Homo sapiens: one gene and its partners. The protein of the gene in region 2 interacts with the protein of the main gene of each other region in a pairwise test. Each region holds a gene or a part of one and is shown on either strand. Other genes may lie near its edges. The genes, in order: VEZT, ANKS6 and C1GALT1.

What was found.
Region 1: the proteins of ANKS6 (region 2) and VEZT interact in a two-hybrid assay, tested with the Homo sapiens proteins (one large-scale study listed by BioGRID).
Region 3: the proteins of ANKS6 (region 2) and C1GALT1 interact in a two-hybrid assay, tested with the Homo sapiens proteins (one large-scale study listed by BioGRID).

The regions. Positions count from the first base shown.
Region 1 is NC_000012.12:95,297,685-95,300,589, reverse strand, and holds part of VEZT (vezatin), read right to left. Parts: intron 1,729-2,905; coding exon of another isoform or gene 1,694-1,728; exon of another isoform or gene 1,647-1,693; intron 1,497-1,646; coding exon of another isoform or gene 1,474-1,496; exon of another isoform or gene 426-1,473; coding exon 1-425. UniProt on the Homo sapiens protein: Plays a pivotal role in the establishment of adherens junctions and their maintenance in adult life.
Region 2 is NC_000009.12:98,786,463-98,790,121, forward strand, and holds part of ANKS6 (ankyrin repeat and SAM domain-containing protein 6), read right to left. Parts: coding exon 3,642-3,659; intron 1-3,641.
Region 3 is NC_000007.14:7,237,963-7,241,621, reverse strand, and holds part of C1GALT1 (glycoprotein-N-acetylgalactosamine 3-beta-galactosyltransferase 1), read right to left. Parts: intron 3,368-3,659; coding exon 2,700-3,367; intron 1-2,699. UniProt on the Homo sapiens protein: Glycosyltransferase that generates the core 1 O-glycan Gal-beta1-3GalNAc-alpha1-Ser/Thr (T antigen), which is a precursor for many extended O-glycans in glycoproteins.

The DNA of each region.
Region 1 (2,905 bases), on a different chromosome or scaffold from region 2:
AAAGGAGAGAGATCTAGCAGCCACTTCTGCAGCAAGGCCAGCAGTGAAGGTAAAATCTGGTGACAGCTGTAGCCGTGCCAGCCTCTGCTTAATGGAGGGCTGTAATGAGTCCCTGGGAGTTGGAGGGGCAGTGGTCAGACCACTTCCATCTGCTTGTGGTTCATCTTCACTCTCACATTGGTAACACATTCTTTCTTCTGCTCCTTGGGGGAAGACTTCATTTGAAGAATTATCTTTATTTTTACCTTCTAGAGAGTTTTCACATAAATACTCAGTCCTACTTATTTCATTGTCTGTTGTGGCGGATTTATTACTTTCCTCTTCAGTATCATTTTTACTGACTTTTCCCATATCTGAATTCATTGATGGTTCTGAATTACTTATGGGTTCCACTGGGTCTACAGGAGACAAGGATTTCAACACGGCTTCAAATAAAAAAAAAGAAAAAAGAAAAAAAATAACTAAGGACCTAGCAATGATTTAAACTTTTAATTCAAACTCTCAGTTTTTTTCTTAAAAAGAACAATAAATAAATAAAAGCTAAATAAAACTTTCTAGTAAAATCAATGAAAATTTATAAATCCAGGAAACTTTATAAGAGAGAAAATGCCTAAGAAATGAAATGAGATAGGGATTTGATGAAGGTTTTTATGACACCTCACATATTATCTTATTTAAAATATTAAAGCAGTGGTTCTGAAAGTGTGTTCCCTGAACCAACATTATCAGTTATCACCTAGGAATTTGTTAAAAATGCAAATTCTTGGGCCTGATCCCAGACCTCCTGAAATGGAAACTCTGGGAGTAGGGACCAGCTATATTTTACAAGCCCTCATCTTGATTCTGATACACACTAAAGTTTGAGAACCATTGTATTAGGGAATAAGCAGCATGGTTTTCACTGATAATACATCAGATAAAAGGCTTAAAGTAATCTAGATAATAATAATATCTTCCATATGTATACATATATATTTACAAGTTAAAACAGCATGGAAAAAAATGCAACATACAATTTAACTTACTTGCCAACCACCTAACAAGACCCTAATGAAAGAAAAGCCATAACTTCTACACATTTTGTAGTACCACGAAAAATACAAATGAAGTCTGCATTCAAGATCAACTATTGTACAAAATATAATACATAAATATAATATATATTCATACGGTAGAAGTTGTCCTTGCAAGGAAAATGCAGTTTTATTTAGCCCCTCTTGATGTTAGTAGGCAGTGGGTTGCTTGCTAGGCAGTCGCTCATCCCAGCATGAGGGGTTAGTACAATACAATATAGTATGAAGCATGACGGAAGGAAAAAAGTGCTTCTCGAAGAGCTGGCGTGTATTTAAAAAACGTTTTTGTAAAATGTGTCCACTTCCAGGAACCATCCCTAAGCTGCAGTAACTCCACTAGAGAAGCAGCAACAACAGAAAAAAAATGGCCACAGCAGGTTCCAGTGCAGACTTTCCCCCTCTAATTCCATGCGGACTTTACCCCTGTAGGCAGAGATGAAAACAGCTCTGGAAGATGTACTGAAATTTTTCATGGGAAAAGCATTCTATGGTATCAGCAGCTTTTTACTTATTTTCACAAACTAAAACAGCATTATGACCCTTTCCAATGTAAACTATATCAAAAGCACATACCTGAAAAAGAGACACATTTCTCTCATTGATAAATCTTTCCCATAATGTCAATAGCATAATTTTAAAGCTATATGAAGAAACACTAAACAATAAAAAAGGATATAAGTTTATATACAATGCTATTTTCAATATATGTACATTCTTAGTTTATAAATCTGTTAGCTCTTAAAGGAAGCAACATATATTAGAAGTTGGTTGATAGTTCACAATTATTACTAATTAAATGGGGTGGATATAATCTGAGTAATGAGAGGATCAATTGACGAGTGTGTTAGAATTTAAGCCTTGAGGCAGGTAGGAGGCTTTACATTTTGTCTCTTGATCTTTGCGCTAGGGATACAGCAGTAAACAGTGCCTGACATATAACAAGTACCTAATAACTACTTGTTGAATGAGTAATTTGCTGAATGAATGCTGTGGGATAATAAGGCCCCTATTTAAGAAGACTGTAATTTTGTTACAGAGACAAACAAAACAAAACAAAACAAAACCCTGAACATATAGAAAACAACAGTGCCTAAAATTAATCTCTGATGTATGTAGGCCCAGTATATGAATGAACAGATTGCAGGAAATCAATCTGTTAATCATTTCCCTTCTCTGCTATATGCTTTGGGGTTCAAGACTTCCTTTATATTTTATCACAATGTTCCTCTAGTGTGAGGGTCTGTAGTGTTAGGAGAGGCGGCAGAGCTGGAGCACTCAGAGAAGGATTCATGGAGAAGGAGAGACTAGTAGAGAGGACAGCTTGGTGGAGAAGGCAGAATTCTTGGTAAAGGGGTAAGCATGAATTATTATTATTATTATTATTATTATTATTTTTTGAGAGAGAGTCTCACTCTGTCACCCAGGCTGGAGTGCAGTGGTGCGATGTCGGCTCACTGCAACCTCCACCTCCCAGGTTCAAGCGATTCTCCTGCCTCAGCCTCCAGAGCAGCTGGGATTATAGGTGTGCGCCATCACACCTGGCTAATTTTTGTATTTTTAGTAGAGAGGGGGTTTCGCCATGTTGGCCAGGCTGGTCTTGAACTCCTGACCTCAAGTGATCCACCTGCCTTGGCCTCCCAAAGTGTTGGAATTAGAGGCGTGAGCCACTGTGCTTGGCCAGCATGAATTTTTTTCATGAATAAAAATAACACATTTGTGAACTGTAGTTTAATTCGATAAACATAAGAAGATATCTATAGTAAAAACAGTAGAAAATATAATTGGATAGATGAATTCTTATGATGAAGAGACTTGAAAACAGGAAAAAGAGT
Region 2 (3,659 bases):
TGTATTTTTAGTAGAGATGGGGTTTCACCATCTTGGCCAGGTTGGTCTCGAACTCCTGACCTCGTGATTCACCCACCTCCGCCTCCCAAAGTGCTGGGATTACAGGCGTGAGCCACCACACCTGGCCAGAATCCCAGAATTCTTCATGGAAAGTACGGACACTGCCATGGGACACAGTATATCAATTTTGCCTGTGAAATACTATCAAGAAACTATTCTGCACCTGACTTTTAAAAAAAATATGTCATGTTCTTTCAAGTATTCAAGAACCAACTTTGCTGTGGGGTGGGGTCTTCTCATGCCAAGACCTTTTCACAGAAAAGAGTGTCACCTGGTCTTAGTGTTGGCTGCTAAGCAACCATCTGACACAAGTTAATCACTGACAGCAGAGCCTGGCCCCAAGAGGCAGGGGCAGCTGTGTCCTGACACCCAGTGACTCTGGGCAGGTCCCTTCCTCGCTTTGGGCTTCAGTTTTTTTCGTCTATATCCAAGCAGTCCCAGGGACCCTGCCCCAACCCAAGGAAAAGAAATCAGCTCCAACTCCACACCACAACCTCAGTGGGGAGTCAGAGGTGTCGCAATGACAGTTACAGCATCAAAAGTACCCTGTCCTGCTGCTAATGAAAGGCAGAGACCAGGGGACCTCCAAGGCCTTGGTGGGGGCTGGATTTCCGGGAACTGCACAGTAAGAGCTGGGGCTCCTATTATTTATTTCATAATCTGTCATTATCAATAGCACAGCCTGCACCCTACCTGGGGCTCTTCCCAGGGATCCCCCAGGGCCAACACACTCCCTCAGGTCCTGCATGTCTGCTGCAGTCCCACCTTCTCAAGGTTGCCCAACCACTCCATTTGACACAGCAGGATGAATTGTCCCAGCTTTGCCACACCCAACCTCTTTACACTGCCCTTTTTTTTTTTTTTTTAACCCTGTGGCACTTACCACCTATCCTACTATATATTTAATATGCTTATTTCCTACTGACTGCCTGTCTCCCCTTATCAAGGCCAAGGTCCTCAAGGTCAGGGATTTGGATCTCATTTGTTCACTGATGTATCCAAAGTGCCTAGAAAGGTGCCTGATACATAGCAGGCCTCAGTACGTCTTTGTAAAGTATCGGAATGAATGTATCATCAATCAAAACATAATAGTTTCCATTTATTGGATGTCGTCTATGTGCCAGGGCACTGCGATGAAAATTTTACAGGCCTGATCTTACTATTCCTCACAAAAATCTCCCAAGAAAAGAGCCTTTATTATGACTATCTTATGAAAAAAGACACTGTAGTCCTGCAGGGCCAATTAAGATGACCAAGACCACCCAGGTACAGAGTGGGAGAACTGAGCCTCAGACTAGTTCTGCTCAATGGGAACATGACCAGATCCTGCTGGAAGACCCGAGGTTCGCTCCTGTCAAATAACGCCGACAACACTATGGAGTAATCCACTTCCCATGTGCTCCCTCTGGGCCAGGCAGGATCTCACATGAACCCCACAGCAGCCCTGAGGCGGGTATCACTCCAGCACCCATTTGTGGAGAAGGAAATGGGAGCTTGGTGAACTGAGGCAGCTGGTTCAAGGTCCCTTGGCCAGCAGGGGCACAGCCAGCATCGAACCAAGTGGACAGTGACCTTGGCCACATCCACCAATGTGTCTGAGCCACTGCATCTTGGGGAAATGAGGGCATCGCCATCCCATGATGCCAGGACAACCCCTAAAATGAGGCCTGTCAGAAGCTAAGCCCGAGGGCACTCCGTGAAGATTCAAGATGCAGAGGCTAAGGAAACCTGGGATGGAGAACGCATGCACAACAGAAGAGGCACAGCTCGGCAGGCACGGGCAGGTGCAAGTTCTGGAGTGTTCACTTCTGAGCCTGAATTCCCTCCCCTGCAAAATGGGGGAATACCCTCCTCAGAGGGTCCCTGCGAGGGTGAGGGGAGATTCAGCATGGCAGGTGTGCTGGGCACGGCAGGGCCTGGGAAGGGCAGATCCTTTCCCCATCCCTGCCACAAACAACCCAAACCTTTAAAGGAGAGCAATGGCCTTGTGTCAAAAACAAAAACAAAACAAAACCCTGTCCTAGGAGACTGGGGCCCTAATTTCTAATAGCAAGCCTTTATGAGTCCCTAACACTCTACTGGGCTGAGTATCTCACACGCCAGAGGATAACCTGCCTTCTGCTCACCACCACCCCGTAGTAGTTGTCATTGTGTCCATTTCACAGATGAGGCAAAGGCTCAGAAGAGTCATGTGTTAAACCAGCTTCTAGAGCCCATGCAGGAGCTGCAGGTGGGAGAATCACCTCTAGGTGCTCTTCCCATGGAATCCTCACCTCCTGAGTGTCACTCACTCAGCTTCCAATGGGTGTGTGACCTTTGACCAGCTTTCTTCCCTCTCTGGGCCTCAGTTTCCCACCTGGACAAAGTAAGAGGTCTCTTGGCTTCAGGTAGTTCTTCCTAAACTTCTTTTTCCTTTTCATTTGAGCATCCTCTTCATTTTTGCCACCTCTCTGTCATTACAGGCTTTTAAAACATGTTTATTTCAGACTTGTTCTGATTGGATGGTGTATTTCTTTTTTTTTTTTTTTGGAGAGTGTATTTCTAATAAGCATTTACCAAATTTTCAGCATCTCTTGATTGATGGGGCTATTCTATATTCTTTCAATGGTAACAAACTTAACACTTTCAGGTCTTTTTAGCCAATGTGCCTGAAGCTACTTTCTTCAGTGCTTGACCTCTCAGAGCTAGATGTTTATATACACTGCAGCCCACCTACTGTTACTCCCTGGCTGTGAGTCCTGCCGTCGAAGTCAGGCCTTTTACATAGACAGAGGGTACCAAGGCTGTGTGTTGCGATCTTATTGCAAACCGTGCATTAAAGGTTTTGAAACGTGGTATGTCCTATGGCAGATTTGCTAAGGATTGTTTAGACAACTCTTTACATGCCAGAGAGATGGCAAGAAGTTAAAAAAAAAAAAAAAAAAAAGATGCACTGCTAGATGTTTTTTAAAAAACTAATTTTCATCAATTTTACATGAACTAGTGTTTGAGAAATGATCAGGGCAGAGGAGGTCAGGCACACTATTGTAGAACAAGGGCTGGCAAACTATAGCCCATGGCTCAAATATATCCCACTGCTTGTTTTTGTAGTTATAATTTATTGGAACCTAGCCATACCTGACTCATTTACATATTATATGCATAGCCACACCCATTCATTTACTCATTACATATGTAAGGCTGCTTTCACTCTAGCAGAAGTGACTACTGTAGTTTTAACAGAGACTGTATGGTCCATACAGTCTATTTGGCCTTTTACAGAAAAAGTTTGCCAAACCTTGTTGTAGAAGGGCCCCAGAACCACCTGCATCAGAATGATGTGCTTGGGGAGAGCAGCCTTGTTATAGAGGCTTCCAGGCTCTTGCCCAGGGCTACCAAATCACTCTGCAGAGAGTGGGCCCAGAACCTGCATGTCACAGGCAATCCCCCCGATACTTAAGCACACCACTTCCTCAGTCTCAGTGGTCTGCAGGGCTGGACTCTGAGTTCTGCGTGTCCTTCCAGTAGAGCAATCCTCAGCTTAAGCCACATAAACACAATTTGGGGTCCTCTGTGAAGCCACGGGGGGCATGCAGCCTGACCTGTTTTGGGCCTGACGG
Region 3 (3,659 bases), on a different chromosome or scaffold from region 2:
AAATATTGCATACCTATGGAAATAGTTTATAAAACTTGACCAAAGGACCTAAAAGGTGACTTACAAAAAATCCTGGGCAAAGATGTTATTGTCCCTAAATTAATGAGTTTGTATGCAAAGATAAAGAAATGAGTTGCCAAAACACTTAGAAAAAAAGAAGAGTTAATTTGCCCTTAGAATAGTAACTTAAAACTGCTGTAAAGCTACAAGGTTCAAAACAATATGGTGCTGGGCCAAAATCAAATGAGAACAATGGCATAGAAATGAAATCCCAGATTTAGATCCTACTATAAGTAAGGTTACAGTGTATGATAAGGGGGACATTTTAAATCAGTAATGAGTTAAAAAATGGTAGTAGAATAATTAGTTAACAATTTAAAAAAATCAGGAGCTCTCTACCTCACTTATGTACTAATATGTTTCAGATAGAATAATGTAAATAAAACTGAATAAAGTAGATCATATTTGACCATTTCTGACCTACAGAAAAGTCAATTTTTCATGTAGAGAGATATATATGTAAACAATTACACATATATTTTAAATCTACCATATTAAGACTCACTGCAACTTCTCTGGTGAAAAGTCTATTACTAAGAAGGTGGAGTGGGAAGGGAACTGCTTAAGAGTCAGTTCTGAACAAGAAATTTAGGAATGTAACTCTTTCATGAATTAGAATATCTTTTACCCTGACTTGCTAGATAAAAATTTTCTGTATTTTCAGTAATTAGTATATAGAAAAAAAAAGTATGTATAAGATTTAAACTCATTTAGGGGGAAGAAAACTTACTAAATGATAGATGGATAATAATAGAATTTTAGTTTCACGTTGGGTTTATGTAAGAATCTCCTGAGGGAGAACAGGCAATGTCAGATTGATGGGTCAATTTTGGTACTCTGAATTCTAATTCTGTTTTATGGTCTTCAACATAATTTGATAAATTTCTAGAGAAAGAACAAATTTGCCAATTATGATGTCCCTTTGCTACTACTGTATGTGTATCCAACATCAGATACTCTTAGTAAGATCTTATATGCATTTGGATGTATTTGCTACATGTTTATATTCTTGAATTTGGGTAAATTTTTTATATGGGAAAAGGATACAGAATTAAGGAAAAAAGATCAAGTCATCTTGGAATGGTCAAAATATATTAAGAAAAGTTTACATCAAAAAAGCATCCAAAGTAGTACTCTCACTAAAATAGAAAAACAGACTATCAAAAGTTTCCTTTTAAAGCTGATTACCTAAAGCTTGGGTCAGATGTTCTAGGCCAGGGTCTCTGAACCATGGTACTACTGACATTTTGGGCTAGAGTAATTCTTTGTTGTAGGAGGCTGTCCTGTGCATTTTAGGATGTTTAGCATTTAGTAGGTTTATAATGTAGTGGGTTTCTACCCATTAGATGCCAGTAGCAGCCTCCTAGCTGTAACAACCAAAAATGTCTCCAGACCTTGCCAAATGTCCTCTGGGGGCAAAATTGCCCTGGGTTGAGAATCACTGTTCCAGATGATGATTTGAAAGCATTGCCTTATGAAGATGACAGTAGTAGCATGAAGTGTATTATTTATACGTTAGGTCCACAGAAAAGAAGGCATAGAGAACTAGTGACTTGCCTAAAGGCATTATTAGTAACAGAACTGAGCCTAAAAGCTAGGTTCCATGATTCCTGGTCTCATTCAGTTATTCACTGAAGCAATGCTTATAATAGTGAACACAGCAGACATGTAATTAACATTGATAAATCTCAATGTTGTGTGAAAAGGGCAAGTTGTAGAAAGATATTTATTTAAAAATCTGAAAAACAATACTATAGCATTTTCTTCTTTAAATAACTGAAACAAATGTGGCAAAAAGATTAATATTTGGTAAAGACAGGGGATAAGTACAATGTATATTCTGAAATATTTGTACTACTGGAATACTTCCTAAAATAATGCACTTTAGATAAAATTCTCAGGAATGTGAGCCAAGGCTTATTAAATGCTTACTGTGTGAAGGGCTGTACTATGTTGTAATTACAACAACTAAATAAGACAGGTACATTATGTCCATCTTACAAATGAGGAAACTGAAGCTCAGATGTCATCCAAGGCTCCTGTCCATCCAAGGTTGTTCGGCTATTAAGTGAGAGAGCAGGATTTGACTCTAGGTCTTTCTGAACCTCCATTAAATCCTCCTGATGACTAGAAGGCTCTTTACCCAGATCTTCACCCAACTTGCTCTCTAATAACACTCAGGGTTCTGCTCAAAAGTCACCTCTTTGAGAGGCCTTCTTAATCACCCAAACCAGAGGACTCCATCCCACTCTGGGTCACTCTCCATCCCCTTACTTGGCTTATTTTTCTTCAGGGCACTTACTACTAAAATCCTATTTTATATTTACAAGTCTGCCTGTTTACTGTATATCTCCTCATCCAGAATGTAAGGTTCACGAGAACTGGAAATTGGCTGTGATTTACTTCTACATTCTCAGTGCCTGGCATATAACAGCATCAATAGCTATTTGCTAAGTGACTACTGCTGATTGCTGATGTCCCTGTTCTCATCTATTTTGTTATACTGCCACTCTATTTAAAAAGACTAAGGAAGAGTCCTTGTTGTTGGTACTAAAGAAACATACACATATTAACATGTTTTTATCAACAAAATTCAGTCAGTCCAAGTATTGACATAGTAATAAAATTTCTAAACTTACCTCTACAGGAGGATAATAGTTGTAATTCCAGTACCAAAACGTTCTAGGTAGATAACCTTTAATTAAATGGTGTTCTGGCACAAAGGGATGAAAAGTTTCTTTTCCAATGGTATCTCTGGAATCTCCTGCTTCTACATTCATAATTTCCATGCATCTCCCCAGTGCTAAGTCTTCAATGGAGGAACTATGTGTACACTTGTCTGTTTTAAATGCATCAACAAATCTTTTCAAGGCTTCTTTGCTTAGTACATATCCTGCTCCTCCACTCATGTAGCCCTGCTTTACATAAGGCTTAAATCTTCTCCCAAAGTAAATGGGTTCTTCAGGGTCGTATTTTGAAAGAAGCCACCTCAAATTGTCTAGTATGACATACGTGTCATCATCTGCTTTCAAAAACCAATCAGCATCTTCTAAATAATGTTCATGAACATACTGAAAAGCTTTAATTGTTTTCCAGTATAGTTGATCTCTGCCTTCTTTGGTTTTCAGTCCCACAGCAGGGAAGTCTTTATTTTCTTCTGAACTCATAAACAACACTTTGTTACAACGCTGGGCCCAAGTAGCTTTGACGTGTTTGGCCTTTTTCTCTAGGTTTTGAGGGCCGGTCATAACCCAGCAAAGAATTCTAACTTTCTGATAGAGGTTTTCAGCAATGTCTGTGTTCTCATCTATTAAACAAAACATTTTAAAAGGTTATTTACATAGATGTAAAATCCAAATATTAATAAATTATACTGAAGAAAGCACTGTCCTAATTTCAAAGTCCCTATTTATCCCTCTATTAGTGATTTAGCCAAAGGAAAGCAAACTCATCCTAATGTGAACTGACACTCTGATTTATTGGTTTCATGTCAGTGTTATCTAGGACATCACTGGAGCTAGTAAGAGTTGACATTATAATCTAAATTCGTCTCAAACTGTAGTTTACTGATTAAAAGCAGCAGCATCACCTGGGAGCCT